Linked DNA regions of Homo sapiens: region 1 is linked to region 2. The links come from fine-mapping of genetic effects on gene expression. A gene starts in region 2. The other region holds a variant in brackets. All regions are shown on one strand. Distances are from middle to middle. Region 1 overlaps CRACR2A (calcium release activated channel regulator 2A). Region 2 holds the start of CRACR2A (calcium release activated channel regulator 2A).

What was found. PIP is the estimated chance that this variant, and not a neighbour inherited with it, causes the effect.
Region 1: its variant is fine-mapped to the expression of CRACR2A in whole blood (INTERVAL, PIP above 0.99).

What each region holds. Positions count from the first base shown.
Region 1 is chr12:3,719,558-3,735,030 of GRCh38, reverse strand. CRACR2A (calcium release activated channel regulator 2A) reads left to right here. Exons shown (of 20, transcript NM_001144958.2): 2 at 1,821-2,089. It also overlaps the pseudogene RNU6-174P. Among named protein-coding and RNA genes, the nearest start is that of CRACR2A, 26 kb to the left of the region's middle. RefSeq lists an enhancer at 1,167-1,795 and a silencer at 6,095-6,194. The variant C/T (reference allele first, on the strand shown) is at 5,788.
Region 2 is chr12:3,746,841-3,762,313 of GRCh38, reverse strand. It overlaps CRACR2A (calcium release activated channel regulator 2A), which reads left to right and starts at 9,205. Exons shown (of 20, transcript NM_001144958.2): 1 at 9,205-9,299. LOC107984495 (a long non-coding RNA gene) reads right to left here and starts at 5,751. Exons shown (of 2, transcript XR_001748964.2): 1 at 5,606-5,751; 2 at 4,149-4,618. RefSeq lists a silencer at 8,971-9,470.

The sequences.
Region 1 (15,473 bases), 27 kb after region 2:
GTGTATGTGGTAGGAGCATTTAAAATCTACCCTCTTAGCAAATTTCAAGTATACAATACAGTATTAAGTCATCATGCTGTACATTAGATCTCTAGAACTTACCCGCTTATCCACATTGTAACTGCAATTTTGTACCCTTGGACCAACATTTCCCCTCTCTCGCCACCTACAGCCCCTTGCAACCACCGTTCTGCCCTCTGTTTCTCTGAGTTCAATTGTTTTGGATTCCTCATATAAGTGACATCATAAATTTGCCTTTCTCTGTCTGGCTTACCTCACTTAGCATAATGCCCTCAAGGTTCGAGGTTCACCCCTGCTGTCGCAAATGGTAGGGTTTTCTTCTTTTTATGGATAAATTATATTCTATTATGTATATGCACACACACACACACACACACACATACACACACCTCACAGTTTCTTTATCCATTCGTCTGTTGATGGACACTTAGGTTGTTTCCATGTCTTGGTGATTGTGAATACTGCTGCTGTGAACACGGGAGTGCGGAGATGACTTTGAGCTACTGATCGTGTTTCCTTCGGACATATACCTAGAAGTGGGATTGTTGGATCATATGCTAGTTCTATTTTTAGTTTTTTGAGGAACTTCCATGCCATTTTCAGGGTTTAGTCCCTGACTTCAGTTTTGAGTCCCGGGAGCCCAGCAAAGTGTCTGGTACATCAGTGGGGGTAAAAAATGTTTCTTAATTAAATGATGGAATTGGCATATGTTGCAGAATTTATTGAAAATACAGGCCGGGTGGGGTGGCTCATACCTGTAATCCCAGCACTTTGGGAGGCTGAGGCGGGCAGATCACGAGGTCAGGAGATAGAGACCATCCTGGCTAACATGGTGAAACCCCGTCTCTACTAAAAATATTTTTTAAAAAAAATTAGCCGGGTGTGGTGGCGGGCGCCTGTAGTCCCAGCTACTCAGGAGGCTGAGGCAGGAGAATGGCGTGAACCCGAGAGGCAGAGCTTGCAGTGAGCCAAGATCATGCCACTGCACTCCAGCCTGGGCGACAGAGCGAGACTCCATCTCAAAAAAAAAAAAAAATAAGGCAAAATGTGTCCAGTCTAGGAAAAGGACTGAATACCAAGAAAAGGTGGAGAGAAAAGTGTGTGTGTGTGTGTGTGTGTGTGTGTGTGTGTGTGTGTCCTGAAAATTTGGGAATGTTGTGGTTAGGATAGTGGGATTGGATTCTAGAATGTGGTCTTGTGGTCTCAGGAACATCTCAGTGCACATCACCTCAGATAATCTTAGCTATGAGTAGCAAAAACCCACAACTCGATGGATTTAAACAAGGATATTTATCGCATGTGTAATAAGAAGTCTGGAGGAAGGGTGACATTGGTGTTGTCTGATCCAGTGGTCAACGATGTCATCAAGGGCCCGGATTCAGTCCTTCTGTTCTGCCTCAGGCTTCCTCCTCATGGTCACAAAGTGGCTGCAGAAGTTGCAGTCAACACATCAGATGGCACAGCATCCAGCAGAGGAAAAGAGCCAGGAAAACACTTCTCCGAGCACCCCTAGCAGGGCTCCTCTCACGTCTTAACAACCAGAGACGGAGTAGAGTCCACCCCAACCTACCCATTGGCAAGAAGCTTGCATTGTTTTGGCTGGATGAGGCCTCTGAGCTGGGGAGGAGGTCACTGTCCTGAGTGAACAGAAATGGAGTTCTGCTAGAAAGGAGGAAAGGATAAATGGATGCTGCTTCAGCAAGCCACAGTGTCTGCCTCAAAGCCCAACCCAGATAATCTAAAATGAATTGCTTGAAGTCAAAGTGAGGAACCCTTTCCTCTCTCTGTTCTACCCACAGGTCATGCCCTGACCACAGCTGCCCTTCAGGAGGCTGGCACGGAGCCACCTGGGGCCATTGGGCTGTTTGTCAAGGGTGGGGCAGCAGCAACTTGCCACTCTTCCTCCATGAGCCCAGCCAGAGCCTCCACTGGGCACTTAGCACAAGAAAAACCCTGCAGGAGCCGGATCCAGAGCGCTGGGATTCAGCAGGAGTGCCAGGAGAATTCAACACAGGTGTGCTGCCTCCTCTCCTGCCAGGTGTGTGGCTGCACAGGAGTCTTGCTGATGGTAAGAATCGGAGTTCCTGGATTCAGGGGGTACTGGGAGCAGCCGCCTGTGAGAAGGCTGGGCCAAACAAACAAATGTTCTGAATGAGGATAAGAAAACAGCATTTCTCCTGAGGGTCTCTGATTTTCTGTAGCCTGCCCCTGGCTTGAAAACTGTCAGCTTAGCAAAGTGGACTCTCAAACCACCTGGATCTCATGTTTTTTGCTTGTCAGATTCATTGATTGCTGCAGAATAGGCTCAACATCCCACAGGGTCTGCTTCTCTGACTGGGACAAAAGCGCTCATAAGAAACTGATGGGAGCGGCTTCACCAGGGGTGGCAGACAATTCTGGCCAGGAGTGGGTGTCCGCAGTGGGCAAGAAGTGTGGGCTCCATGCCAGGAGCAGTGGCGACAGCTTCTAGAAATTGTCTAGTAGCCTGACATCCTAAAGAATGTCCTGGAGAGCTGGAAAAGCGGTTCTTCCAGACACATGCAGGGAGCAGCGAAATGAGATGCAGTAGAAGGTTGAATCCAGCTGGGAGCACAGTGCAATTTAGTTAAGAGTGACTTCTGTGGCATCTGCTGGTCGTGGGTGAGGGCTGGGGGAAGATAATACTAATTTGGCCATTATTACACATGTCTTTCTTGAATCTTCAATCAGATTGTCAACTCCTTGAGGGTAGTAATGGAATATTTTATGTCTTTTGCATTCTTCACAAGGTCGGGTACTCAGCCATTGTTTATTGGTTGACTATTTGATGCATTCCGACACAATACACTTGACCGGGCCAGGTCCTGGGATCTTCATTCATAGGAGCAGTGTTGTCACCAGTATCTGTTGGGCACCTGCTGAGAAGGAGCAATGGCGGGTACTTTTGCCACCCGAGTTGGCCTGAGGTTGCTGAGTGTATGAGTTTCCTAGGGCTGCCTTAACAAAGTGCCACCAACTGGGTGATTAACAGAAATGTCAGGTCTCCCAGTTCTAGAGGCGAGAGGTCTGCAACCAAGGTATCAGCAGGGCCTGACCCCTCTGTGGTGTATAGGAGGCCCCTCCTTGCCTCGCCCTGGCTTCTGACGATTTGCCGGCCGACTGTGGTCTTCCTTGGCTTGCAGCTGCGTCACTCCAATCCCTGCCTTTATCATCACATGGCATTCTCCCTGTGTGTGTGTGTTTCCAAATTTTCCCATTTTTATAAGGACACCAGCCATATTAGGAACCGCCCTACTCCAGTATGACCTCATCTTAACTCATTACATCTTCAGCAACCCCGTTTCCAAAGAAGGTCACATTCTGAGGTACTAGGGGTTAGGACTTCAATGTGGAGATCACAGTTCAAGCTGCCACACTAAGTGAGCTCATTCACAGTGACAAGACTAGGGACATACAAAGGGCCGGGGTGAATATGAATGGTGTTCCATGGTGCTGCCTGAAAGTGACTGGCAGCAGTGTCAGCAGGGGAGCATGTCCTCTGTTCTCAGCATTCACTAGAGAGGTGTGCTGAGCTGGGGCCCAGCTGGACACATTGGATGCTGTGCTCCAGAGGAGGAACTGCACTCACCTATCGCTCTCCTTTGTATGGGACAAGTGGGACAGAGCCTTGATGGGGGGAACACACCACTGGGGTTCCAGGCAGCCTTAACTATCGAGGAATGGCAGGAAATTCTGTCTGCCCAGCACCTGGTGACCCTGGAGCTCCTCAGTTTCCCGGGAAGTTGAGTTTTGGAGCAGTCTCTTCCAGAGAGGCTGGGAGTGCATCACTTTCCCCCTGGAGGTGGCGGAGGCTGCTGGGCCCAACTAGCTCATTGCCAGGCAATCCAGAGAGAGTTCCAGACACCAGATACTGAACAACCTACTTGTCTCCACACCTAGTAAAGCTTGGATCCAATGCTGCCAACTTTTCTGCCTCTCCAGTTTTGGAGCCCTTAATGTGAAGGTGCAACCCAGAAGCCTGCAGGCTGTTCGTAGCCTGTAGATGTGTTTTCTTCCCAGTAGCTGGTGTATACAGTGTTTTTGTATTATTTTTCAAATAAGCAATACATTTGTGTGGTTCAAAAATTAAAGCGCTATAGAAAGGTATTCGGCGAAATCTTATCCCTGCCTCCATTGGCCAGTCCTGCCCTGCCCCTCCCTTGTAACCACTTTTATTAGTTTCCTATACAACCTTCCAGGATTTCTTTTTGCAGATAAAAGTCAGTACAAATATATATCTGCCTCATCCCTCTACTTCTTACATAATTATAACAGACTCTACACACTATTTTTAACCTTGCCTTTTTCACTCGATTTATCTTGGTGATCTTTCCCTCTCAGTATGTGGAGAGCTTCCTCATTCTTTTTTTACAGGGGCATAGTATCCCATTGTATGGATTTACCATAATTTAGCAATCCCCTACTGATGAACACAGGTTGTTTTTAGTCATTTGCTGTTAATATTACAAGAAACACTGCACGGAATAAACCTGCCATTTCATGTTGACCCTGAACGTGTGTAACATTTAAAAATTCTGAAAAATCTTTGAATAATCAACAGAACTGGAAACACTCAGTTCTAGTATGTGGACAACTGGTTGGGTTGGGTAGCAGCTGTCCTTTTAAAGAGACCTCCCTGCCCCGCTCTGGCATCTTCCCCACCACCTCTTGCTGACCCTCTTGCGTTCAGCCTGAGCGTTGACTGCCATCTAGCAACATTGTGCTGTTTCTCTCATAGAGTATTAAGGAGGAAGGGAAATCACTCATGTACTCATGTCTCTTCAAGGGGGAAACTGAAAACCAAGGAGGCTGTCTTTTTCCAGCAGAGGGAGGAGGGCAGACTTAATATGAAAGCGATTCTTCTTCATCGGCCCCTGCCCACTCGGCCCATTTCTGTTAATCTTCTGTATGCTTGAGATTGCAGCCCCTGCCTTGCCATGTCCAGGCTTTCATCTCGGGAGCTGAAAAGTGGAAGGGAAAGAACTCTGCTCTCTTCTTGCTTTTGTGCACTATCTGAGTAATTGCATGGAGACCAGCAATAAAAATGAAATACAAGACAGTCAGAAGTGTTGCTCCATTACATGGATTCTCTCAGCAGACCCCCCAAGGCAGTGGTAGCACTAGCTCACTTTTCCAGACAAGGAAACAGTAGCAGAGTGAAGTGGCTTCACCAAGACTCATAACTCGCACACAGAAGAACTAGGATCAGAACCCAGGTTTTTCTGTCACTAGAACCTGACATTTTAGCCAATCTATCATGCTGCTCCCAAAGTCTTTTTGTTTTTTCTTGAGACAGAGTCTCGCTCTGTCACCCAGGCTGGAATGCAGTGATGCAATCTTGGCTCACTGCAACCTCTGCCTCCCGGGTTCAGGTGATTCTTCTGCCTCAGCCTCCCAAGTAGCTGCGACTACAGGTGCACACCACCACATCCAGCTAACTTTTGTATTTTTAGTACAGATGGGGTTTCACTATATTGGCCAGGATGGTCTTGATCTCTTGACCTCATGACCTGCCTGCCTCGTCCTCCCAAAGTGCTGGAATTACATGCATGAGCCAGCTTACCCGGCCCCAAAGTCTTTTTAAATAAGGAGTGGTTTACAGTTAAGCCTCTCACCTTCTAAGTCTGTCATTACTGATGCTGTGGAGATGATAGTCGTGACAAAGATAAGAGCAGCTCTGAAAATGGGCCAGATGGCTACATACTGCAAAAAAGGTGGGTGACAATGCGTCTGTGGTCTCATAACTAA[C/T]GTGACGGCTGTTCCTTGACAGCTTTTCCCATTTCATAGAGTGGAATTGGCTCCCCTGCCCTTTTGCTCTTTCAATCCAAGAACATGTATTGAGCACCTTCTGAATGCCAGGCACTGCGCTCGGTGTGAGTGACAAGCCTGGTGCCTGGAGGCTAGTTCAGGCAGGTCAACAGAAAGCTGCAGTGCCACCAGCTACATGTGGTATTGGTGACATGGATGCGTTGGGTTGTGTCCAGAATGTGACAAAAGAGACAAATACGCCATGGAGCAACCATGGACAACAAGGCGAGTGGCTTCCAGCTGTCTTGGGTCCTCGTCATTTTACACTACTTGATGAAGGAAGGAAGTGGGACCCAGAAGTGGTGGCTATGAGCTAAGGTATTGAGCCATCCTTCTGCCCGCAGCCCAGGATGAACATGACCACAACTGGCAGCTCTCTGGAGGCCACTCGGGGTTGAAAGGTGGGCCAAAGGAACCCTCCCTCCCTTTGCTGCTCCACCTCAGCTTTTCTCATTCCTGGCCATTTGTTTATCCTGTAAGCTGGGGGCTGGGGGTCTCCCAAAGTATCACTCATCCTGAGAGTTAGCATTCTTCCAGCGGGGCAAAATCCTCTTCCCTACTGAAGAAATTCTAAACCCAGCCAGCTGAAAGAGGAAGAGTGCAGGGGTGAGGGGAGGATGGGACCAAGAGGGCACATTCCACTTGATCTCTGAAGTCACACCTCAGCAACGGGACTTGCCCGCCAAGGCTTCTCGTCACCATGCTTTGTTGGATTTGTAATGTGCTGTTTATCTCTCTTCTCCCGCAAGTTTGCATGCAACAGCATCTGTCATCTCTGTGGTTATCTTAGAACAACTGGGGCTTTTGCTTTTTATTTATTCTTTCTCTGAGTGCAGTGCTAACCACAGCAGCCTACGGGCAGAGGGGTTGGGGAGGGAGTCAGTTGCTTTTCATTGAAGTGCTATGGTCTTCAGCTGCAGCTGGTGTGAGTGCTGAAACTGTGTGAAACAAAAGTGTTGAAACTCAGTCCCAAGTGACTTCTGGGGATCCGTTGCCTGTGTTTCCTATGGATGAGTAATTAGAAACGAGTGGTTTTCAGGTTGAAAAGGAGACTCCAGAGTCCTGATGGAATACAGACAGCAGGCACGTCTAGGGCCACAGACAGGTATGTGTGCTGCTCTGTGCTGGCAGCTGTGTGCAGATACAAAAGAAGTATCCCATACCCTCCTTGCCCTCAAGGAACTTAGTGACAGGAAGGAGAGCAAAATTTACAGTTGGCCTACCCTCTTGGGCCTGTTTCCTCATTACAGAAATGAATGAGGTTACACTTGATCAGTATTCCTTATTTTATTTTATTTTTTTTTTAGATTCAGGAGGTACACCTGCAAGTCTGTTACATGGAGATATTGCATAATGCCGAGGTTTGGGGTTCTAATTAACCCATCACCCAAATAACGAACATAGTATGCAATAGGTAGTTTTTCAGCCCTTGTTTGGCGAGTGTTTCTAATGGGGTCAGGCTGTCCCCTAGAGTAATGCCTCTCACACTTTCAAAGAAGTTAAGCCAAAAGCCCGGTATTTAGGAAATGGTTGTTTTAGGAAGAGAAGCCTAAATGGAATAAAGACAAAACCTCGAAATGACGAGATGATCTCCCTGCTTCATGCATTCTGTCTAGATCAGAGCATTTCCAAATATACACTGAACTGAAAAGGGCACAGTACAATATGCAGTGACCGCAAAGCAAGGAACCCATGCGCAGGTCTGTAACAGGAAATCTGAGACTTCATCCAGCCGATGTAGAATTAGATACTAGTTTAAATTAGCAGAGGCGCCTCAAACTTGTTTATAAAAGCTGTTTTAAAAATAATATTCTTATCACATATATTTATATTTGTAGTACAATGATAAGAAATCTCTTGCAAAAATTAGCTATCATGGTTACTTCTTTGGGGTTGCCTTTTGTTCTTCCTTCTTACTCTGATATTCTCCTTCAAGATTTACCCAACAACTTTTCCCAATCCATCCTCTTCTTCTCACCGCCCATACTATAAGGATGTCATTTTAAAAGCTTTTTTTTTTTTTTTTTTTTGAGACAGAGTCTCACTCTGTTGCCAGGCTGGAGTGCAGTGGTGCGATCTCAGGTCACTGCAACCTCTGCCTCCCGGGTTCAAGGAATTCTCCCACCTTAGCCTCCCGAGTAGCTGGGACTACAGGGTGTGCCACCACGCCCGGCTAATTTTTGTATTTTTAGTAGAGACGGGGTTTCACCATGTTGGCCAGGATGGTCTCAATCTCTTGACCTTGTGATCCACCCGCATTGGCCTCCCAAAGTGCTGGGATTGCAAGTGTGAGCCACCACGCCCAGCCACTTTTTTTTTTCTTTCTTTCTTTTCTTTCTTTTTTTTTTCTTTACTGCTAAAGACCGAATATATGCCTCAACACAGTGGGTGGGATTTCCAGACTGGAAACATGTTTTCTGTGACACTTTGTCACTATCCTGCCCCATATCACAGCGTAATAAATTATCATGACGCTACACTTATACGTAAGACTGAGCTCACGAGACAGGATCCTGTGCTTCCTTGTTTCCTCTGCTTGCACATTTGTAATTTGATTTGGCTTGTTATCTGTACCTCAGTGAAGGTTATTTCCTTCTTCCTGTTATCATATACGGCCAGGAAAGGGGGGTAACTCATTGTAACACTTCTTTATTCTATTGTCCTCCTATATCCCTCTGATCTTTTATTTCCTTGTACTTCTTATATGAAGTGGCTTCTATTTGTCTTCTGTTAAATCTAAACTTAACCATTATAGGTAGGTGGAAGTGTTGACTACTTCATTATGTGTTCCAGTGCAGGCATGCATGAGCACGTACATATTGACAGACATATTATTTTATTAAGAATCACATTTCTGTGCTCACTTTGGCAGCACGTATACTAAAATTGGAATGATACAAAGAAGATTAGCATGGCTCCTGCACAAGATGACATGCCAAGTGTGTGCTCGCTCTCTCTCTCTCTGTGTATATACGTATATATATAAAATATACATATAGTATGTATTTATATATATTAATCACATTTCCTTTTTATCCTTTTATTAAAATTAGGGCTACTTTATGCGTTTGGGTCGACCGACTTTTCTAGGAATTGTATTTCAGGTGGTAAAGATGGTGTTTCTAAATATTTGTTACAAAAATAGGGCATTGATTGGATAGGGTGGAGCACCACTGGGTTAAATGATCTCCAAGGTCTCTGACATTCTTTGTGCAACATTTACAAAACAATGGATGACAGCCTGATTCATGACTCAGTCAGAAAAAAAAAAATCCTGGAGGAGAAAGTGATCAGTGAAAGCTGGGATTCTTTACAATGTCTTCTTCAATGAAGTACTGTCCGGGAGATGTGGTGCTCCTTGCCCCTGCCCCACCATCCTGGCTGCGCTTGAGAAACTGGGGAATTGAAGAAAAGAAAATACTTATTTAATTTCCCATCCAGGATCATGTGAAAACAAATTTCTGGAGTGAGGCCCACGCATCTGGAGTGTTTAAAAATCTCCCCAGAGGATCTGATGTACTCTGAGGGTTGAGAATCAGTGCCTGCAGAGGGGCGAATGGTAAAAAGATAGGCCCATGTCCTAACTGCCAGAACTGGTGAATATGACCTTATTTGGAAAAAAGAGTCTTTGCAGATGTAATGAAGTGAGGGATCTTTAGATGAGATCATCCTGGGTTATCTGGGTGGGCCCTGAATTCAGTGGCAAGTGTCTTCATAAAGAGACACACAGAGGAGGGACATAGAGAGAAGAAGGCCAAATGAGGACAGAGGCAGAGCTGGAGTGATATAGCCTCAAGCCAAGGAACACCTGGAGGTACCAGAGCCGGAAGAAGCAAGGAGCAGATTCTCTGCAGGAGCCTTTAGAGGGGACACAGCGCCGCAGTCACCTTGATTTAGGACTTCTGGCCTCCAGAACTGTGAGAGAAGAAATCTGTTGTTTTAAGACACCTGGTTTTTGATAATTCATTGGCAACCCTTATAGATTAAAACCCTGCCTAACGGGTGGAGGAGATTTGGTGAGATGGAAGAGATGTGGGAGAGCCTTTCTCATATGGAAGCAAAGTGAGTGAAAGCAGGGAGGCCTGGCTGGAGGGAAAATGGGAGGCAGGACCACTATTATAGGACAGCGACTGTCCAGGGGGAGCGGGCACTGATTCTGTGGAGAACCAACCAGAGAATATTTCCTTTTTCTAGGAAAGATGAATTCCTCTCCATTCTTCTTCTCCATTCTCTCCTGTCCTATTTTGGAAAATAGTGCTTGCTGCGCCTCCTTAGACCAAAAGAGCCCAAGCAGCCCAGGAAGCGAGTTCACACTCCATTCCATAGCAGTGGGAACCAGTGAAGGGTGAGGTCGGATGTCTGAACACTTAGTGTTCTGTTGTCCATCAATGTAAGGGTCACTCCCTCCAGGGTGCACTCCACCCCTCCCCAACACCAGCAGTTCCACTTTACGATGGTGGCTTTATGAATCCCAGCAAAGCTATTTGTTTTGCAGCCCCAGACGGTCTGGGTGATATTGCTGACATCATTGGATGGCCCTGCCAATGTCTTAGAAGTCAGTCCTACCTGCAGATATCTAAACTAAGTCACATCACTTCTGACAAGCTTCTCCTAAGGGACCATTTTCTCCTATGCTTAGACCACCAAGCTGGAATGAGAGCAGCCAGCCTCAGAGCACACACAATGCCAGCTGTGCTTAGTTAATAACCAGCCAGCTATCTTGGGGAGGCGTCTCGCGGGGCACTGCATGATGAAGCGCAGATCCATGCCCTACTTTCTGCAAACTTAAGCAAGTGAAACTTTCATTAACAATGCCCATGAAAGCAGAGTCCTCGCTGACTTCTCTGGCTGGCTCAGCAGGAGCCTAGAGGGTGTGAGAGGGCTTGTGCAAGAACACACCAATCTCATTTCTGGATCTTGTGCGTGCATTTCCCAGGTGTTGTTTTGAACAGTGAACTCAGAAAGGGCCAATACTCTGGGAGCAGAGAGCTCACCCTGAGTATAATACGGCCTTAAGGGTAGAGAAAAGCAATTAAACGCCGCCTGACAAGAAGAATCTAGGGACTGTGATGCACTGAGCACTAGGGCCGGGTGCTGGGGGCCTGGATTGGAAGGAGACAGGAGGAAACAGATGGGAACAACTGATGCATGATTATTCTTAGTCTTTGATTGCCAGCTCTATTGGGGATTTGACGTTACCCATTGTCCTAGAAACGAAGGAAGGGCATAGGAGTGCCTTCATTTCATTTTCTGGAAATAAACATCTTTAAAGGAAGGAGATCTCTTCCTTCTATGGACACCGTCATATGACTGACACTGTAATGTCAGTGGCTACTGATTTAATGTTGAGAGAGAGACTGCAGAATGGTAAGCACAGGCCAAAATGCAGCTGTTGGCTCCAAGGAGCAGCTTTGGGATCCCCTGGATAAGAGGCCCTGGTGGAGGTCATTCCAGGCATCCTCCTGCCTACAAGAACCCCAGCATCCTTGCCTACTATGGGCTTGAGAGAGAAAGGCCTGGCCTCTTAACGTGAGATGTGGGGCTGAGGTTAGGGAGCAGGATGGAGGACCATGGCTGGAGTTGCTAAGTCTCACTGGGGCACTGAGCTGCCCCTAGGGACACCTAGGGGCATCCCTAGGCATCTCTCTGTGCCACTGAGTCAGAGACGTGTGAAAACGTTTCCAGTTGAGCAGTAGGGTATTTTGAATGCAAACACACACAGTTTCCAAACCCCCCACCACTGACCTCCTCTTATTTATTAGAAAATCCAAAAGAGTTTTCCAGGGTTGGCTGGAAGGGTGGATAAATCTGACACTAACTGGCCACCTGAACCATGGAGAGAAACAGTGTCCTCCAGAGAGCAAGCACCATTAGAGAAGCCCTATCATGGTGAGAAGGCCTAAGGCTGGTTGCGGTCCACACATAGCTCCAACCCAGAGAAAGGGAGCAGCCATGTGTCTGTGCTGCAGACATGGCATGCTACTCCATGCTCAGCACTCTAGTCAAGGCTGCAAGTATTACTGGGAACAAGACAGATAGTCCCCGGGCTCAAGGAGCTCGCAGTCCAGCAGGAGTAATAGATGTTCACTAGTTACACCAGGAATTGTTTAGTTACAATGGTCATAAATGCTAAGGAGGAGTACAAAGTTCCTGAGAACATACAGTTTTGGATGTAGTCTGAAGGATCTTAAAGATCATCTTGTCCAGCCCAATCAATCCACAGATAAGGAAACTGAGGCTCAGAGAGGGTAAGGAAATAGATGAAGAGTACCTATTTAGTCAGTGACTGAGATGGGATGAGAAAGCATTTCTGATTCCCAATTCTGTTTTTGTTTAGGCTAGGGAAATTGATTTACATTTGTAGTCAGAGCCAGTTGTATCAACATTTTCATGAAAGTGTCTGGGTCTAGGAATTTCATGAAAAAGCCAGTGGATGAGAGAGTGGAGGGGGACTATTCACAGCATGGTTAGGGGCTGTTTGCACAAATCCTACTTCTGGTAGCTATTCTAATAAGGCAAGGATGAGTCCCTGTTGGTACTGTGTGTCCTGTGCTGACATCAGAAATGATAAATGTGCCTGATGCAGGAGCCACGGAGTTCATCACCCCTCAGCTGTAAGTGCTACCTCCATACGGCCTCCCAGATGCCAGCCTCGCTCCACACTTCGTTCTCGAGTGGCTGTGCCATTCCAGGTCCCCACGGCCTCTCATGGGTCTAGTCTCCTTACTTCTTTCTGTTTGACTTTAGCACCCACACTGTCTTCAGACTGTATGACCTTAGGTGGGTTACCTAAACTTTCTGAACCTCATGTGTAAATGAATGTGGACAATGAGGGTTATAGGTAGGGTCAATTAAGACAATTAAGGCTCCCAGCATAGTGCCTGGTATATATTCCATATGAACTCCCTAAAATATGTCAGGTCCTGGAACCCTTGATGACTCCTTATAACCTGCAAAATAAGGAATAACCCTGTTAGAATCCAACACATCCAAGAAGATTTTGTTGACTCCTGTTATGTGCTAGTCATTGTGCTGGGTAGTATGGTTACAGAATGAATAAGCCATGATCCCTGACTTCAGGGAGCTAAAAATGTATGGGGGTAGACATGTACACAAGTCTAATCCAGTGTGATGGGTGATGCATCAGCAACAATCACAAAAGGCCATTGAAACACTGACAGTGAGCAACTGAGTCAATTTGGCATGACATTCAAGGCTTTCTAGCCCTCCTGTCCTATCTCTTACTCTGTCCTTGTGCCAGTGCACCCTGTTCCCTACTCACATTTTTCCAAACACGTGCTGGACGTCTTCCATCTCCCTTCCCCTCCCCACAGCCCTGGGGGTTAACATAAACACAGAGAATATAGGAAATACTAAAGAACATCATAAAAATCACCCATAAACCCAATAAACAAGATAACCACCATTGATATTGTGGTACATTTCCTTCTAGTCTTTTTTCAGTGTACATGTCTTTTCTTATTGCCCTTTTCTCATTCTGCCTTACATTTTAGTTTTTCACATGCATTTATCTCCACTAGACTATAAGCTATTTGAGGAGAAGAATAACGTTTCACTCACTTTTTTTTTTTTTTTTTGAGACATGATTGAGACTCTGTTGCCCAGACTGGAGTACAGTGGTGTGATCATGGCTCACTTACTGCAACCTCAAACTCCTAGGTTCAAGAGAGCCTCCCAAGTAGCTAGGACTACAGGCATGTACCACTGCACTTGGCTAGTTTTTTCTTTTGCTCTCTCTCTCTTTTTCTTTCTTTCCTTCTTTCTTTCTTTTCTTTCTTTCTTTTTTTTTTTTGTAGAGACGGGGTCTTGCTATGTTGCCCAGGCTGGTCTCAAATTCCTGGGCTCAAGCGACCCTCTTGCCTCAGCCTCCCAAAGTGCTGGGATTACAGGTGTGAGTCATCATGGCTGGCCTCACTTGCTTTTTACCCCGTTCCTAACACAGCATCTTTTACTAGGAGTCACTCTGTAAATGTTAGCTGAATAGAGCCGCTAGGTGAATTTGTTTGGCTTTGGAATTCTGCATGTAATCATTGTTGAGAAAGCAGCTTTGCTGTGCTGGTGCGTGCTGCTTATTTAAAACTCAGGCATTCTCATGAGCACTAGAAAGTGCTGGCCAGTCAACCACTCTGCTGAGTGGGTGAGGGAAGAGACTAAAAATCCATAATAATTCAACAAGTGGCTGAGCCACAGGCGGGTAATAAAGTGAGTTCTGCATCCTGCATGGGGTTGTGTTGGAAAGCAGCTCTGCCCACCATGATTCGACTTTGTCTTGCTTTAGAATGACACAGTTGATACTGGCAAATCTTTCTTTATCCCTTCTGATCAAAAATAATGTTGGCGTTTCACCTGGGTGGGAGTGGGTGAGATTTTCTTCTCTAAGAAGTCAGTTTTGGCTCTAAAATACTCTGGTTAGATTAAAATGTAAGAGGCTCTTGAGCGAGGATTGGAAGTGGGAATAACACAGGCTCTCTTCCAAAAAGCTCGGGGTAGGGAGGCTGGGACCAGGTCAGGAGGAGAATTCACTCAGCACGCCACAGGTCAATGCAAAGCAGAGCACACGAGAGAGAATGTTGTGAGGGATTAACACAGTAGAAAACGTTAGAGCATCAGGATCCCGTCGAGACCTGTGGCAGGCACAAGAGCCTGGCGGTGTATTAAGTACCCTCCATTTTTATTTGTTTCTTTTTTTCTTTTGCTTTCTTTCTTTCTTTCTTTCTTTCTTTCTTTCTTTCTTTCTTTCTTTCTTCCTCTCTCTCACTCCGTCCCTCCCCCCCTCCCCCTTCCTTCGTTTCTCTCTCTCTTTCTTTCCTTTTTCTTTCTTTCTTTCTTTTCTTTCTGTCTCTCTTTCTTTCCTTCTTTCTTTCTTTTTCTTTCTTTCTTTCTCTCTCTCTTTCTTTCTTTCCTTCCCTCTTTCTTTCTTTCTTTCTTTCTTTCTTTTTCTTTCTTCTTCTCTCTCCCTCCCTCCCTCCCCCTCCCTCCCGCCCTCCCTTCCTTTCTCTCTCTCTCTTTCTTTCTTTCTTTTCTTTTTCTTTCTTTCTTTCTTGAGATAGAGTTTCGCTATTCTTGCCTAGACTGCATTGCAATGGCACGATCTCAGCTCACTGCAACTTCTGCCTCCTGGGTTCAAGCGATTCTCCTGCCTCAGCTTCTTCAGTAACTGGGATTACAGGCGCCCGCCACCACGCCCAGCTAATTTTTTGTGTTTTTAGTAGAGATGGGGTTTCACCATGTTGGCCAGGCTGGTCTTGAACTCCTGACCTCAGTTGACCCACCTGCCTCAGCCTCCCAAAGTGCTGGGATTATAGGCGTGAGCCACTGTACCTGGCCACCTTCCATTTTTATAAAAAATGTAGGAAATTCATTGGTGTGGATGGCAGCAGGACAATGAAAGCAGATATAAGAGAGATAAGTCCATTCACAATCTGAGATTTTTATTTGGATATGGCAGGATTTTTGTTATTTAGATGTCTTTTTTCTTGAAAGAATATGGTATAGCAGAGGCTGTTTCTAGTATTAAATATCTCAGAGGGAATTTCATTACCAGATCAAGGAAAGAGTCTGCACGGTTTTGGCTTCTGATGAAAAGCATCTAAAACCAAGTTAAA
Region 2 (15,473 bases):
TGGAGTGCAGTGGTGTGATCTCGGCTCACTGCAACCTCTGCCTCCTGGGTTCAAATGATTCTCTTGCCTCAGCCTCCTGAGTAGCTGGGACTATAAGAGCATGCCATCACACCCCGCTAATTTTTTTTTTGGTATTTTTAGTAGAGACAGGGTTTCACTGTGTAAGCCAGGATGGTCTCAATCTCCTGACCTCATGATCCACCCGCCTCGGCCTCCCAAAATGCTGGGATTACAGGCGTGAGCCACCACTCCTGGCCTTGTTTCTTTTTTTTTTTTTTTGAGACCGAGTCTCACTTTATCGCCCAGGCTGGAGTGCTGTGGCATAATTTTGGTTCACTGCAACCTTCACCTCCTGGGTTCAAGCAGTTCTCCTGCCTCAACCTCCTGAGTAACTGGGATTACAAGTGCGCGCCACCACGCCTGGTTAATTTTTGTATTTTTAGTAGAGACGGGGTTTCACCATGTTGGTCAGGCTGGTCTCGAACTCCTGACCTCGTGATCCGCTCACCTCGGCCTCCCAAAGTGCTGGGATTACAGGCATGAGCCACCGTGCCCGGCCAGCTGGCCTTGTTTCTTATTCTTAAGCCTGGCTTCCTAGAGTTGCCCATGTGTCTGCCTAGATTAGCGTTCAGCCAAAGATTGGTCAGAGGTTATGCTCAAATATCTCGAGCCAGTGAGATTTCTACTTTCTGCTGGCAGATTTGTGAGTCAGCTGGAGAGTGCATCAAAATTTCAGGCATTTTCCCCCCAAGTCTGCCGAGGCTTCTCTTTTCCCCTGAGCCCTTGCATCTCCACTGTACATGGGGAAGACTCCACTGGCCAGGAATGTGTGGGTGGCTTAGGATGTTCCCGTTTCTGCAGCATATGCATACGACCTCTGTTTAACTCATAATATGGGGAGAGTTTACTAATCCCCTCATATCTGCTTCACCTCCTGGAACTCCCTGTTAAGTACCCAGCTAGTCACTAGCCCATTGCTTGCTCTGCAGTTTCAGGCCAGAAGAGCTTCTGGTCCTTTCTGATTACTTGCCTCTGAGATCATCGCTTAAATAATACTGCTTCAAGTCAAGGGAACCCCCTCTGGCAGTGACAAAAAAATGCTAGTTTGTAAGATCTGGCTTGCCCTCATTGAACTATCAAACAACAGCACTCTGGTGGCGGGGCAGGGGTGCAGGACTCATACAAATCACCACAGATTCACGCTGATGTTGCTGTAAGTTTAGTAGTTTTCACGAATATAAGCACTTCTCAGTTTGTTGCACGCCTCCAGTCATTTTTGGGAAATGAAATGGTTGTTTTTGACAGTTTTGAGTGGGGACTATAGTTGCTTTTTGAGGAAATAGATTATCGACCTCTTCACACTCTTATGCCAGAAGTTCTTCTCTGGACATCAGGTTTTTATGGTGTCTCTCCCCAGCTGGGAGAGGGGATGTGCAGGAGGGGAGGAGGTCTGGGCTGGAAGCTTTCCAATCTGGACTCAGCTGCAGCCAGTGGGCTCTTACCCTTTGCAGATCTCAGTTCCCTTAGCTGAAAATCAATGGGCGTTGGACAGGGTGACTTGCTGCATTTCCTTCCATCCTGAAAATATTCAGTTTCTAATGGAATTCAGAATTCAGCCAATGTCTTTACATAGGAGATCTAAAAAATTAATTGATCTCACCCTTTCCATGATCTTTGGTGTCATTGTTACATAAAATTGTGCCTCCAAGGAGGTCATATATGTATTTCATCTAAGAAGAGGCAATGGTGCTTTTGACTTCAGTAGAGAGAGGAGGATATTTTTTCCCTCCTTCCTTCCTTCTTCCTTCTCTTCTTGCTTGCTTCTTTTCTTTTCTTTTCCCTCCCCTCCCCTCCCCCTCCCTCCCTCCCTCCTTTCTATCTCTCTCTCTCTCTTTCTTTCTTTCTTTCTCTCTCTCTCTTTTTCTTTTCTTTCTTTCTTTTCAGAGACAGGGTCTTGCTCTGTTGCCTAGGTTGGAGTGCAGTGGCGTTATCATAGCTCACTACAGGTGTGTGCCACTGTATTAGTCCATTCTCACATGGTTATAAAGAACTACCTGAGACTGGGTAATTTATAAAGAAAAGAGATTTAGTTGGCTCATGGTTCCAGGAAGCATGTCTGGGGAGACCTCAGGAAATTTACAATCATGGCAGAAGGTGAAGGTGGAACAGGCACATCCTACATGGCTGGAGCTTGAGGAAGAGAGCAAAAAGGGAAGTGCTATACACGTTTCATTAGTCCCTTTTCATGCTGCTGATAAGACATACCCGAGACTGGGGAAAGAAAGAGGTTTAATTGGACTTACAGTTCCACATGGCTAGGGAGGCCTCAGAATCATGGTGGGGGGGGAAAGGCACTTCTTACATAGTGTGGCAGGAGAGAATGAGAGAGAAGCAAAAGCAGAAACTCCTGATAAACCCATCAGATCTTGTGAGACTTACTATCATGATAATAGCACAAGAAACACTGGCCCCCATGATTCAACTACCTCCCCCTGGGTCCCTCCCATAACACGTGGGAATTCTGGGAGATACAGTTCAAGTTGAGATTTGAGTGGGCACACAGCCAAACCATATCAACTTTTAAACAACCAGATCTTGTGAGAACTCACTCACTATCATGAGAATAGCAAGGGGGAAAATCCTTCCCCATGATCCAGTCACCTCCCACCAGGCTCCTCCTCCAACATTAGGGATTACAATTCGACATGAGATTTGGGTGGGGACACAAATCCAAACCATATCAGCCACCATGCCTGGCTAATTTTTTTTTAATTTATAATTTTTTGTAGAGATGGGGTGTCACTGTGTTGCCTAGGCTGGTGTCATTCTCTTTGCTTTGCTTTTCCCTCTTCCTCTCCTTCCTCCCTCCCTCCCTCCCTTCCTTTTTCCTTTCCTGACACTGTAAGCCTTGACTATGTACCAGGCACTGTACTAGTTGCTTTTTATGTGAATTATTTCATTTACGTCTCACAACAACCTCATCAGGTAGATCCTGTCCCTAACTACATTTTACAGATTAGGAAGCCGAAGAACAGATAAACTTCCTGACATGTTCAAAGCTGAGTAGTTATTTAGTCTCAACCTCTCAATCCCCTTCTACTCTGCAACACCAACTCTACACATAAATTAGACTTTTGGCATCATTGGTCATGTTTTTAAGAGAAGTGGTCCGGAATTGAGAGGTGGGGAGGCTCCTCTGGTTGAGAAACACCAGAGGTGTCTTTCTGCAGTAGGCAGCATGAAAGCTGGATCTGGCTTTAGACTTTAAACAGAGATGCATGGAGGGCCCTGCAGGCAGGGAAAGCAAAGCTGGTATGACACCATTGCTAGAAAGCAAATGCTGGGCTCTTTACAGCCTATTTGTGGGTGAATAGTGAGACATAAGCTTAGAAGGTGATATAGTTTGGCTGTGTCCCCACTCAAATCTCCTCTTGAATTGTAGCTCCCACAATTCCCATTTGTCATGGGAGGGACCTGGTGGGAGGTAATTGAATCATAGGGGTGGGTCTTTCCTGTGCTGTTCTTGTGATAGTGAATAAGTCTCACGAGATTTGATGGTTTGATAAAGGGGAGTTTCCCTGCCCAAGCTCTCTCTTGTCTGCCACCATATAAGACGTGCCTTTTGCCCTCCACCATGATTGTGAGGCCTCCCCAGCCACATGGAACTGTGAGTCCACTAAACCTCTTTTCGTTTATAAATTACCCAGTCTCAGGTAAGTCTTGATCAGCAGCATGAGAAGAGACTAATACAGAAGGGTTGTTTTATCAAAACAAAGCATCTCTCTAAAAATGGTGATGTTCCCTGACCAAATTTTGATGGTGGAGGAATTAGATTATTGGGAAGCACTCTGTAATGAAATGGCCAGGCACTTTTCTTTGTTTTCGCTGGCTTGTAGGAGCTGGTTGGCTCCACCAAACACTAGGCCTAGAACATTCTTGGGCTGACAGAACCCCCTCCTTCACCTTACTACATTTGTTATTTCCTTATTTATTATATTCACGGTCAAGATACTGTGGTTGGGTCTTGTGTGTATGCATGTGCACTCATGGGAAAGCAGAATTATGAGGGAAAAATATCTATACTTTCTAAGCAATTTATAACTGTAAAATAGTAGATACGAAACATTAATTTCATCATTCCCAGATGATTAGATAAATGATAATTCATTGTTAGGTCTTTAATTTATTTTTAGCTGAAGTAACCATGTGGCTTCTTTAGTGGATACCCTTGAACGTATGGTGGCTTTGATTTCTCTATTCCACAAAGAGGGGATTCAGAAATTCGTGACAGCAAAAACAATATCCCACATAAGGTGGCATCAGGTACTCTGTCTCTCAGAGGCCACTTGTGGGGCAGGGGGATGGAGTGAAATCCTCCATTCAGGGCCTGGAGTGGTCACCCACAAGCTTGTGGCTTACAGGTCAAGTCACCCTGAGCCATAGTTACCTCGTCAGTAATACATGGGATTGGCTCTATGACTTCCAGCTCTCTCAGGTCTGTACCTCTGCAGCTCCATCTGAATGACGAAGTCTATTGTTGGCTGCTGGATGGAGAGTAGAAAGTCACTGCTCATGTCTTACTTGTCCTGTTTTGGAAGGACTCCAGATTTGTAAATCCCTTAAAGGAAGTACATGATTTTCAGAAATATCTTCAGGGAGGCCCTGCATTCTAGCCTAATTTTTCAATTGCAGCTATAAGCATGTAGCCTGAATTGGCTCCTGCAATCTCATAGATGTCTCCTTCCCAAACATGCTCACAGAGGCAAAGGTTAGAAGATATGGATCCAGGGTGATTTCCCTCTGGTGTTTGCTGGCTCTGTAGAGCTGGCCAGCCCTCTGCTCTGGGCCGCTGTTTGATTTGGCCTTTGCTGGCGAAGCTCTGGGAGGTGGGGCAGATGCTGCCCTTCTGTATGCAGCCTGAGAAAGTCAACATTGAAAAATCTGTTTGGTTTTTGGCCTCCACCTGTTGGAAACTCTGTAATTGTTGCCATTCACAATAAGGAAGAAGGAACAATAGAGGGATTCCTGTATTAGAACAGTGAATGTTTTCATTGTTCCTCTAAGGGGACCAATAATAGGAACTGGGCTTAAGTTAGAGTTGAAAGCAGCAAGTGAACAAGAAAAAACAAAGAAGTTACAGATGACAGGAGGAAGGATGCCATAGAGCATCAAGGTGACTCTGGAAGAGGGTAGCACGCCTCATTGGAAGTGTCCCTGTGCCCTTCAAGCCAATTTTCTACTCCCCCGACCCCTGACACTGGCTCTTCCCTGCCCCACCCCAGAGGAGGCAGCAACTCACAGCACAAGCATCTAAATGTTACTTACCCCACCAATCAGCCCAGACCCTCCAGCCATTACCTATTTTCTTGGTTCATAGATGAAACAGGGACTATGATCTGGGAGCTCTGCATCCACTTTCCTCCCACCACCTTGCTCCCATCCTCACTCATCTTTACCTCCTCCCCCTGCTTCTGAGACTTCTGGGCTCCTCCTAAGCCCTTGTCCTCGCCAGTCCTTCCTGCCTCTTCTTATACCAGGGCCATTGACCCCTCCTCACTCTTCATCCTTTCTCTCTTCATCAGATTCTTAACCTCAGTCTACAAACCTCTTCCAGTCTCCTGCTTGGTTCTTCTGTTCCTCTCTCACACTCTTTGTCCCCTCTACTGACAGCCTCCTTGAGAGTGGTACCTCCTTACTTCTCCATTCCTCACTTCCATTTATTCCCAAACAATTGTGTTGGGGCTTCCAGCACTCATCCAAAAAAAAGAAAGAAAAGAGAACACAACCGAAAATACCCTGTTCTTGGGCCAATGGCCTTCAAACTGCCAATTCCAATTCTAGGCTTTGCCATATGTATTTACCTTTTGTATGTTCACTCAATTGTCATGACTTAGATGCTTATTATATGTCAGAATGCAGGCCAGGAGGACACCAGATACCCCTAATAAAACCCAAGTTTCCTTTGGATGAATAGCCCATTAGGTTTTGTCTGCCAATTGCTTTTCAGTGTGGATCACTTTATGTGCCCTTTTCTGGAAGTTGACTGGGTCTGGGCAGGCAGCAGAAAGTAGAGTCCACTGGCAGTCTGGTGATCGGGGACATGAGATCAGGGACATGAGTCCTGGGTTGGAGGACATGAGAACAGCTTAGGGCTCCAATGACACACATTTCCTGGTGTTGACATGACCTAGCAGTGGCCTCTTAGGGTGGCAGGGTTTGCAGCTGCTGTCTGGGGCTACAGGCCCTGGTGCTAAACCAAGGCCATCCTCCCACCAAGGAGCACAGTGGTAAGTCATTGGCAGCTGGGCAGGTTGCACAGCTGGGGAGGATGACCCAAGTGAGCTGAATACTGGCCAAGGTCCTGTTCTTCTTTCACGGCTACCCTGCTTCTGTCACAACCCCCATCGTACTGAACTGCAGTTGTCAACTCCCTGGCTGATTCCCTGTGAAACAGAGCTCCTAGGGAAGAGCCTAGGTCCAGACCAGCTGTACAACTTGAATGGTCCAGTGTAAAATACAACTTATATGGCCCCTTGTTCAAAAATTGTTAAGATTTCAAGAAGGTGGCAGGACAGCATTAAACTCTGTATGAAGCCCTTCTAAGTGAGTGGCCTATGTCAGGGGTCCCCAACCCCAGGCCACAAACCGGTAATGGGGTACTGGTCCGTGAACCCTATTGAGAACTGTGCATGTGAGGGATCTAGTTTGCACACTCCTTATGAGAATCTAACTAATGCCTGATGATCTGAGGTGGAACAGTTTTATCCTGAAACCATTCCCACCCCCCACTCCCACCCCTGGTCCATGGAAAAATTGTCTTCCACGAAACAGGTTCCTGGTTCCAAAAAGGTTGGGGACCTCTGGCCTATGTGACTTCATAGGTCATATGCCCAGGAAGCCAGCCTTGCCTCGGTCTTATTCGTCACCTAGAGAGAGCTCAATAAATCCTCATTGAATAAACGAGTTTGGGTTTCTCCTGCAACACTGAATCATGTAATCATGGGGAAAGAGGAGGTGGAGATCCTCATCCTTCCCATGGTCCAGGCTAGCTCCATAGCCTGGGGCCAATCAGTGAGTATCAACTGTGCCTCAGTTTCCTACATCCATACATTGGAAGAACCATCTTTTCCCTGTCGCTTTTCTGCCACGGGCCAAGAGTAAAAGAGGCACGAATGTACAAGCTGAACTTGCAGCAGTTAATGTGATGGCTCTGTGATTCTGAAGGGCACCATGAGGCGTGGTGTTCTGTTAAAGAAAACGCCAGCAAATTAGAGACATCCCCATAGAAGCCAGAAGATGTGGTTAATGTTTGCAACATGAAATGTCTAGGTGTTCTGAGGTGGGCTAAAGGACAGTTGCTTTTCTTCCCTATTAAATAGGTGGTTAGACTCAGACACAAGGGAACAGGAAGCAGAATGGCATCAGAGACAAAGATGACTGCATGGAGTTTGGTGAGAAACCATCCTCAAAGCAGCAATTTTTTGGATGAGTCTCAGCCTTTCTGAGCCTCTGTTATTCCAACTGTGAAGTGATACAATTAACAATAACAAAAATTTGATAAGAGCAAATACATTTGGCATTTTTAATGAACCTACTACTATTCTAAGCCCTTTAAAGATACACATTTATTTCGATTCATAGAACACCCCATGATGCAGGAGCTGTTACTATCCACATTGTACTGATGGAGAAAGTTCCAGTAACTTGCCAAGGACGTAGCTGGCAAGTTGGAGCACTGAGATTCAAACCCAGGGCTTTGGCCTCCAGAGTCTGTGCACTAACCACTGTAATACCTCTGAGACTGTAAGGGGCAAATGAATGACAACGCATTGATTTAGAAGTGAAAGGCGATCTAAACGTGCAAGTATTAACACTATTAAAAACAACAATAACAATGGTAGGTACCTCCGATGCCTCTGACCTTATCTCTCTGGTCACAGTTTTCTGCTCTGTAAAATGGGTGGGCAGGCTTTACACTGGATAATCTCTGAGGCCCCTTCCACTTCTCAGATTCTGATAATGAAATGTCCTTCTTTCCTCACATAAGGCTGAGAGAAGGTCAAGCCACCAGCTTGCAGACCTTGGGAGTTGACACAGGGAAGCATACCCAGGACAGAGCCAGAAAAGCCAAGGCACGCAGTAGGGACACACCAGAGGGCAGGCCTCAGAGCCCCTGACAGCCTTCTGAAACTCTGGCAGGGTGGAGGGAGGTTGTGGGCTAGTGGCTGGCTGGGCTGCAAGGAGAAGAAAGGACTCCACAGAGTAATTTATAACAGCTGCTCAGTAAGTGCTAATTTGTTTCTCTCCACCTTGGAATAGGACTTAGCGCGTGTGAGAGGGGGATGCTACTACATAAACCAGTACCAGAAAGATGGGCTTGCCAGGAAAGAACTGGGGCACTCTGCAGGGGCAGTGTCTGGGGAAGGGTTCTCCAAAAAGGTGACATTTCAGAGGGGCCTGGATGGATGAGTAGGATTTCAACAGGCAGAGATGAAAGGGGAGGGTGTTCCAGGCAAAAAGAAGAACTCCCAGCAGCCATGAAGAACAGCTGGTGTTTGGCAACAGCTAGTGTGTCCAGAGCGAAAGTGTTGTGTGTGTGTGAGGGAGAGAGGGTGAGGCTGGAAAATTAGGTTGTGGCCGGAGAGGGCAGGGTGGGCCTTGCCTTGTGCGCTAAGCTGAGGGGTTATCCTGCAGCCGGAGCACCTCGGGAGGCCTTTGAAGATTTACTCAGTGCTTTATTAACAAATACGTATTGGGTTTTTGGTGTTTTGTTTTGTTTTTAACGATTCATGCCCACAGTAGAATATATAGAAGAGTCAGAAAAGTATAAAGAATAAGGATCCCCTTTAGTTTCTGCTCCCAGAGGTAACAGCCGGAGTGACGCCGGGCTGCTGCCGGGTTTTCGGGGGTGCACTCCCAGACACCACCTCTCCAGTGAGCCAGCGAGGGCCGGACTGATGCCCCACCTTGGGAGCCTGAATCGGGGCAAGGGGCCTAGGGAGCAGCGGGACCCCGGAAGCCCGACCAGTCAGGCCGGCTAAGTCGGCAGCCGCCCCGCCCTCGCCACCCAGCCTCCCTGGCGGCCTCAGGTCGCGCCTGCAGGCCCGGACCCCACCGCTTGGCGCGCGCACGTCCCGGAGGGCGTCCAGGGGGCGCCGCTTCCCGTTCAGCTCCGCTGAGGGGCTGGTCCAGCCCGCGCGGCTCGGAGCGGAAAGAGTCGGGCGGAGCAGGCGGCTGCTTGACAGCTGAGAGCCGAGCGGGCGGCGCGGGCAGGTCCACGGGAAGCCTACACGCCCAAGGTAACGTGGAGGAAGGTTGAGGGTGGGCGGCCGGGGCGGCCGGGGGGCGGCGCTTCCTGCCTGCTCCTCCGGCTGCGAAGTGTGAGCGCGTGTCTGCCGCACATGGAACTCGCAGAGGGCCTGGATGGAGGCTGTGTGCCCTTGGGGGGGAACAGCTGGCTCCCCTGCCACCCCCAGGCCTGGCCTGGCCCTTGCTCCCCTCCCTGTCACTCGGTAACGGGACTGGAGGAGAGCCGAGAAGCACTAGGGTTTTGGTCAGGAAAGGACCTTAGGAACCCTCCAGCCTCATCCAGCCTCTTCATTTCACAGATGAGGAAACTGAGGCTCAGAATGGTAAAGTGACTTGCCCAAGGTCTCAAGTCTAAGAACCAAAACTCCTACCTTGCAGGTCAGTGCTACTAGGAGCCCTGGCCACGCAGGCAGCATCCACAACTGTTGCCATGCCGAGAAACAAAGAACCGAGACAGACAGTCAGAAAGACACAGAGAGAGAACCTCCCAGAGCAAAGGAAGGAGGTCAGGAAGTGGGCGGCTGCTGGGGCTTGGCTTCCGCCCTGGCCCCCGCGTGTGCTGGCCTGGCTGTGTGGCTCAGAGGCGTTGTGCTGACTCTGTCCGTGTGTGTGTGTGTCCGTGTGTGTGTGTGTCTGTGTGTGTGTGTCCGTGTGTGTGTGTGTGTGTCCGTGTGTGTGCGAGTGTGTGTCTGTGCACCCATGCATGCACGGGATGCAGCGAATGTACCCTGCCACGTGGGAAAGCCCTCTGAGTTCATTTATCTGTTTACACAGTGTGCTTAGGAACCTGCCCTGTTTGGCTCTGTGGAGGACACCAGGAGTCTCAAAGGAATTCGTTCTGTGTGACTCAAGAGGACAGAAAGAGCCAATCCGTGGGAGTCCCCAGGGTGGTCAGAGGGTCAGGAGGAAGAACCTAACTCATGAGGTGATGGGTTCCTTGTCTCTGGAAGAAAGCAGCATGTACCGAAGAGTCTTTTTATCAAGGATGTGGGCATAGGGATATGAAATCAGAGCAGTTTGCTCCACGTGGAATCAGCATTTTTGTTGAAGGGTCCAGAGTTCATGCCCCTTTTCAGGTGAAATGAATATGTACAACCTCATGGTTTAGTATTTGCCCATAAGAGCTACTTCATGCGCAGTTTTTAAGTGATAAGTGAGAGGCTTCAGGTATGGCTTCCGAGGTCCTGTCACCTCTCGGTTCTATAAGTGAGAGGCTTCAGGTACGGCTTCCGAGGTCCTGTCACCTCTCGGTTCTATACTATAAAGTGTGTAGAGGGAGTTTGGAGGAGGGAGGTTACTTCTGGAAGGAGTGACTCGCAGAGGGCGTCCTGGATGTGGCACTGAGGCCGGGCCTTGAATAGGAGGCTGGGTCTGGGCATCTTGGGGAAGGACGGCTGAGCAAAGCCGTGAAGGTGGGTTGTACCTGAGGAGCAAGGAGTAATGTAGTGGACAATCCGGTGAGGAGTGCTGCCTGGGAGAGATGGCAGAGGCTTGGAGTGTTACGAGTCTAGAAACTTCATTATTAAGCCTAGGGATATTTTGATGGTTTCTAAGAAGGGAAGTGTTGTTCCTGGAGCTGGGTTCAGAAGAACATGTCATCTGCACCTGGGTATGGGATGTACTGCAGTGGAGGAAGCTGTGGGAAGAGAACCTGGGAAGAAGCCCATTGCAGTCACCATGAGGGGTTGAACAGGGCTGGTGGGAATGGACAGGAAGGGGCTAAAAGGCTTGGGGGTAGGGGAAAAGTCATCTGCCATGTGCCAGGGCCTGTGGTAGGAGATTTTCATGTTTAATCTCATTTAATCCTCCTGACAACCTCATGAGGAGATTGCTATGATTGTTCCATATTGTAGAGGAGGAAACTGAGAGAGAGGTTAGGTGGTTTATCCAAGGTCATACAGAAAATAAGTGGTGGGATGGGGATTTTAACCCAGAGAACAATGGAGTAGATGCAATCTGGTAACTGAATAAATGTCAGGGACCAGAGCAGAAGAGACCAAGATGATGGCGATTTGGATTCCAGAGTTAGAGTGGCTGGTGATGCCACTGACAGAGATGGAACCCCAGGTGTGGGGGGTGATTGGAGATGCGTCACGCTGTGGTGAGCCTGCAGAAGGCAGGCCCCAGCACTGGGGCAGTGGCCGCAGTAGCCATCCATTCTGCCTTGGGGCTCCTTGTTGCAATGGTTTGCTGAACCTGTTGTGGGGAGGGAGGGTTGAATCTGCAGGCTGCCTGGGTACTGGCAATGCAGCTGAGAGAAGCTAGGGGAGAGCTAGTGAGGGATTCCTCAGGGACAGGCTAATCACCCACTGAGTTCACATCTCTCTCTTGCTTTTCTTCCACACAAAATAGTGTCTATTTTGTTGCAATGCACAGAGGACTCAGGCACTTGCCATGATACCTTAGGTGAGAATTAGTTCAGATTTTATATTTTCCAAGGCCCTGTTTCCCTCGTATGTTTCCCCTAGAGAAGAGCTAAAAGATGTAATTGCCAAATATTGCAGAATATTGCAGAATTCAGGATCTTAAGAGCAGGTCCACGGCCTCTTACAATGTCATAGAATCACGGTGTTCTAGAGACAAGTCTGCCCTATTTTACGGATGGAGAAACTGAGTCTTTGCGAAATCATGGTCCTTTGTCAGCTGTTAGTGAGTGGCAGAAATGGGTCCAGGCCCTTGGGCTCCAGAGGTTTTGCTTTCTGCACTGACACACATGGAGGCCGCTGTCTTGCAGAGGAGCCTCCAGGGTTTCCTGTAAAATAGCCCTGGGGGCCAGGCTTGGTGGCTCACACCTGTAATCCCAGCACTTTGGAAGCTGAGGCGGGTGGATCACCTGAGGTCAGAAGTTCGAGACCAGCCTGGCCAACGTGGCAAAACCTCATTTCTACTAAAAATACAGAAATTAGCTGGGCTTGGTGGCAGGCACCTGTAATCCCAGCTATTCAGGAGGCCAAGCAGGAGAATTGGTTGAACCCGGGAGGCGGTGTTTGCAGTGAGCTGAGATTGCGCCATTGCACTCCAGCCTGAGTGACAAGAGCGATACTCCGTCTCAAAAAATAAAAATAAAAAATAAAAAAAATAGCCCTGGGGACAGTTCTATAGACAGGTCTAGCATTCAATGGACCATTTCAAACTGGTACACTTTTTGTTCCTACCAACACAACACACACACACACACACACACACACACACACACACACACACACACAAAGAAACAGCAACAACAACAACAACAAAAACCAGCACATTGTTCCACTCATCCATCTATTGGTCATTTCTTTGCCTTTTCAAATCGCTTCCTTTCCTCTGAGAGAAATTTGATAAGGCACAGTTTAGTTAGAGCCATAAAGGGTTCCGTCCAAGTACAGGGTCAGGGGGAAGTCCCAATAAAGCCAGACGGTACCTGTGTGCACCAGCAGAATCCTAAGGCACGGACAGGGAAGCAGGAAAGGAGAGGATGGCTGTAAGGATCAAGGAAGGAGAAGAGACAAAGTGCAGAGAAGAAGGAAAAGAGGAAGAGCTGAGTTTGTGGAGCAGACAGCTCAGTGGCATGGGCAGAACCTACTTTGGGGACCTATATTTTGGGAACCTGGCTCCCCAGTACTCAGAGGCAGCATGAAGCAGGGAGATAACCAGGTGGACATGAAGAAGCCAAAGGGAGTCACTCTTATAATACATCATCCAACCTCGGGCACTGCCGGGAGTGAAAGGGGGAATATTCATAGCAATGCTGGGACCACAAGCATAGCCAGGATGTTCCAGGCAAACTGGTCACCTTCACAAGAGCAATGCAAAGAAAGTGCCAGGCATGGCCCAAGGGCTGTCCATGTATTCCCTTATGGAAGCCTCACTACAACCCAATTGGCTAGGCACTGCCATCATGCCCATTTTATAGAAAAGTTAACTGAGGAAGAGAGAGGCACAGTATCATGTCTATGGTCACACAGCCGATACACGGTAGAGGCAGGATTTGAACTCAGGCAGCTTGGCTATTTCAGAGCCTGCACTGTAAGCGTTATGCTCCATTGGCTCTCTACTCACCAACAGCATCCACACAAAGACACCCCCTTCCCCTCACAGGACTCAGGAGAGGGACCTTTGGGGTCTGTTTTCCCTCACAGCTGCTCCAACTGGTCAAGTTAGCATGACGTCATCCGGATGACATAAACAAATTTGCAGTCAGGCTGAGGTGAGGGGGAGGACAACCCTCAGTCAGGTTTGTCCTCTACAGGCTCCACACCTTGTACACAGTGCTGAGTCTTGGCCTCAGGTGTTGGAGTTCTCAGTCATCCTTGCCTTGTAACTGCTCTGCCCTTTCTCTGAAGGCTGAGTTAGATACAGGAAGGACCTCTTGAAGTTCAATATTAGGGACGGGTTCCTCTAGGACCTCATCTGCCTGGGGCAACTAGAGGGTGCCACCCTGTGATGACAAAGTTATCTCCAGGGCCTCTTCCAGCTTGAGGGCTATAGAATTTTCTTTTGTGACAGATTCTTCAGGAGACAGAGCATCCCCCTTGTCGGTGTGTTTTGGCTCCCAGCCCTGGCTTTCTCGGAATGCCAGCGGGACACTTTCTTCCCTTGTCTGTTTGTTGACACATCCTGGATGGGGCTGGCCAAGGGAGGCATTTATGGGGCAGCAGGCTCTATGGTGGGTGGAGTCTGACTCTGGGTGATGCTCCAGGTGTTTCTAGAAGATGCATGGAGGTAGGAGCAGGCAAGCTTCCCCTGTGGTTCAGATTCCAAGGGCCTCTGTCCCCACCCCATCTGTGCTGAAGATCCCTTATTCACACAATAGAGCTGCCCTGCCTGGGGGTGGAAAAATGTGAGGCTGGGCCTGAGAACTTGTGGGAAAGTGGAAACCGTGTTTTACCCAAGCAAGTCCCAGCAGTGAGGTTGGATAGGCTTAACACCCAGTCCTGTGCTCGTAGTGTACCCCTGAGCCTGTGGAACTCTGTGCCCTTCTGGGTGCACCCCTGAGCCTGTGGAACTCTGTGCCCTTCTGGGTGTACCCCTGAGCCTGTGGAACTCTGTGCCCTTCTGGGTGCACCCCTGAGCCTGTGGAGCTCTGTGCCCTTCTGGGTGTACCCCTGAGCCTGTGGAACTCTGTGCCCTTCTGGGTGCACCCCTGAGCCTGTGGAGCTCTGTGCCCTTCTGGGCTTAGTTAGAGGAAAGGTGAGAAGGGTGAGACGTAGCACACGTGCTACAGGTGCACCAGGACAAGCTGGAACCAGCGGGTGTGGCTGCCCTCCTCCCGGAACCTGCACTCGTGTTTCTGGCCAGACAGCTTCCTTTACTCTCTTTTAAACTCACAGCAGCACCAGGGGACGTGGGAGGTTGGCTACCATGACCCAATTACCAGTGCAGACAAGAGGAAAATCTTCTATTACCTGGGTGATTGGTTTATTTTCACTTTGTTTACTTTAGAGATTGCTCAGCATTGAGGTCCAGGATTTGTAGTCCATCAGAGTTCTCTTGGTAAATGGATGCAGCTTTGCCACATTGTCCGCTGCACATAACCACATACCTTCACCCACTGGGATAGAGGGTTGGATTGGTGCTGATGCGGGAGGGAGGCCAGCTTCCTGCAGCCCCACCTTGACCAAAGACGGAACTCCAGGGACTCTCTTTCCACTGCACCTCAAGGTTGATGCACAGAAACACACTGGGCATGGCTGAGAGTTTGGCATAAATGAACTCATCTTTGTAACCGTTTTATGAAATAGGCACTGTTATGATCATCCTCCCCATTTTACAGATGAGGAAGCCATCTTCCTCATCTGTTTCAAGAGGCTGAGTAACTTTTCCAGGGTCACACAGCTGATAAGAGGCCGAGCTGGGATTTGAACCCAGGCAGTCTGGCTCTAGGGCCAAGTCCTCAAGCGTTCCACAGCCTGCCGCCTCTGAATGCTTAGTGCAGAGTCTGGGTTCTACTCTAACCAGTCATATGTCTTTGGGATTAGCCTCTAAACCTGAGTTTCTCTTCTCTTCATTCAAGTGAGAATACAGGAGTTACCTGTTGATCCATGTCAGGTGAGTTAAGGGATGTGAGGAAGCACGTGGTCCACGCACATGTGATCCCATGGGTCATGGTGACATTACCTGTTTTGAGAGCTTGTGGTTGAGTTCCATGCTAAGGGTGTACTCCTCCCCTTGTTGGTCCTTCT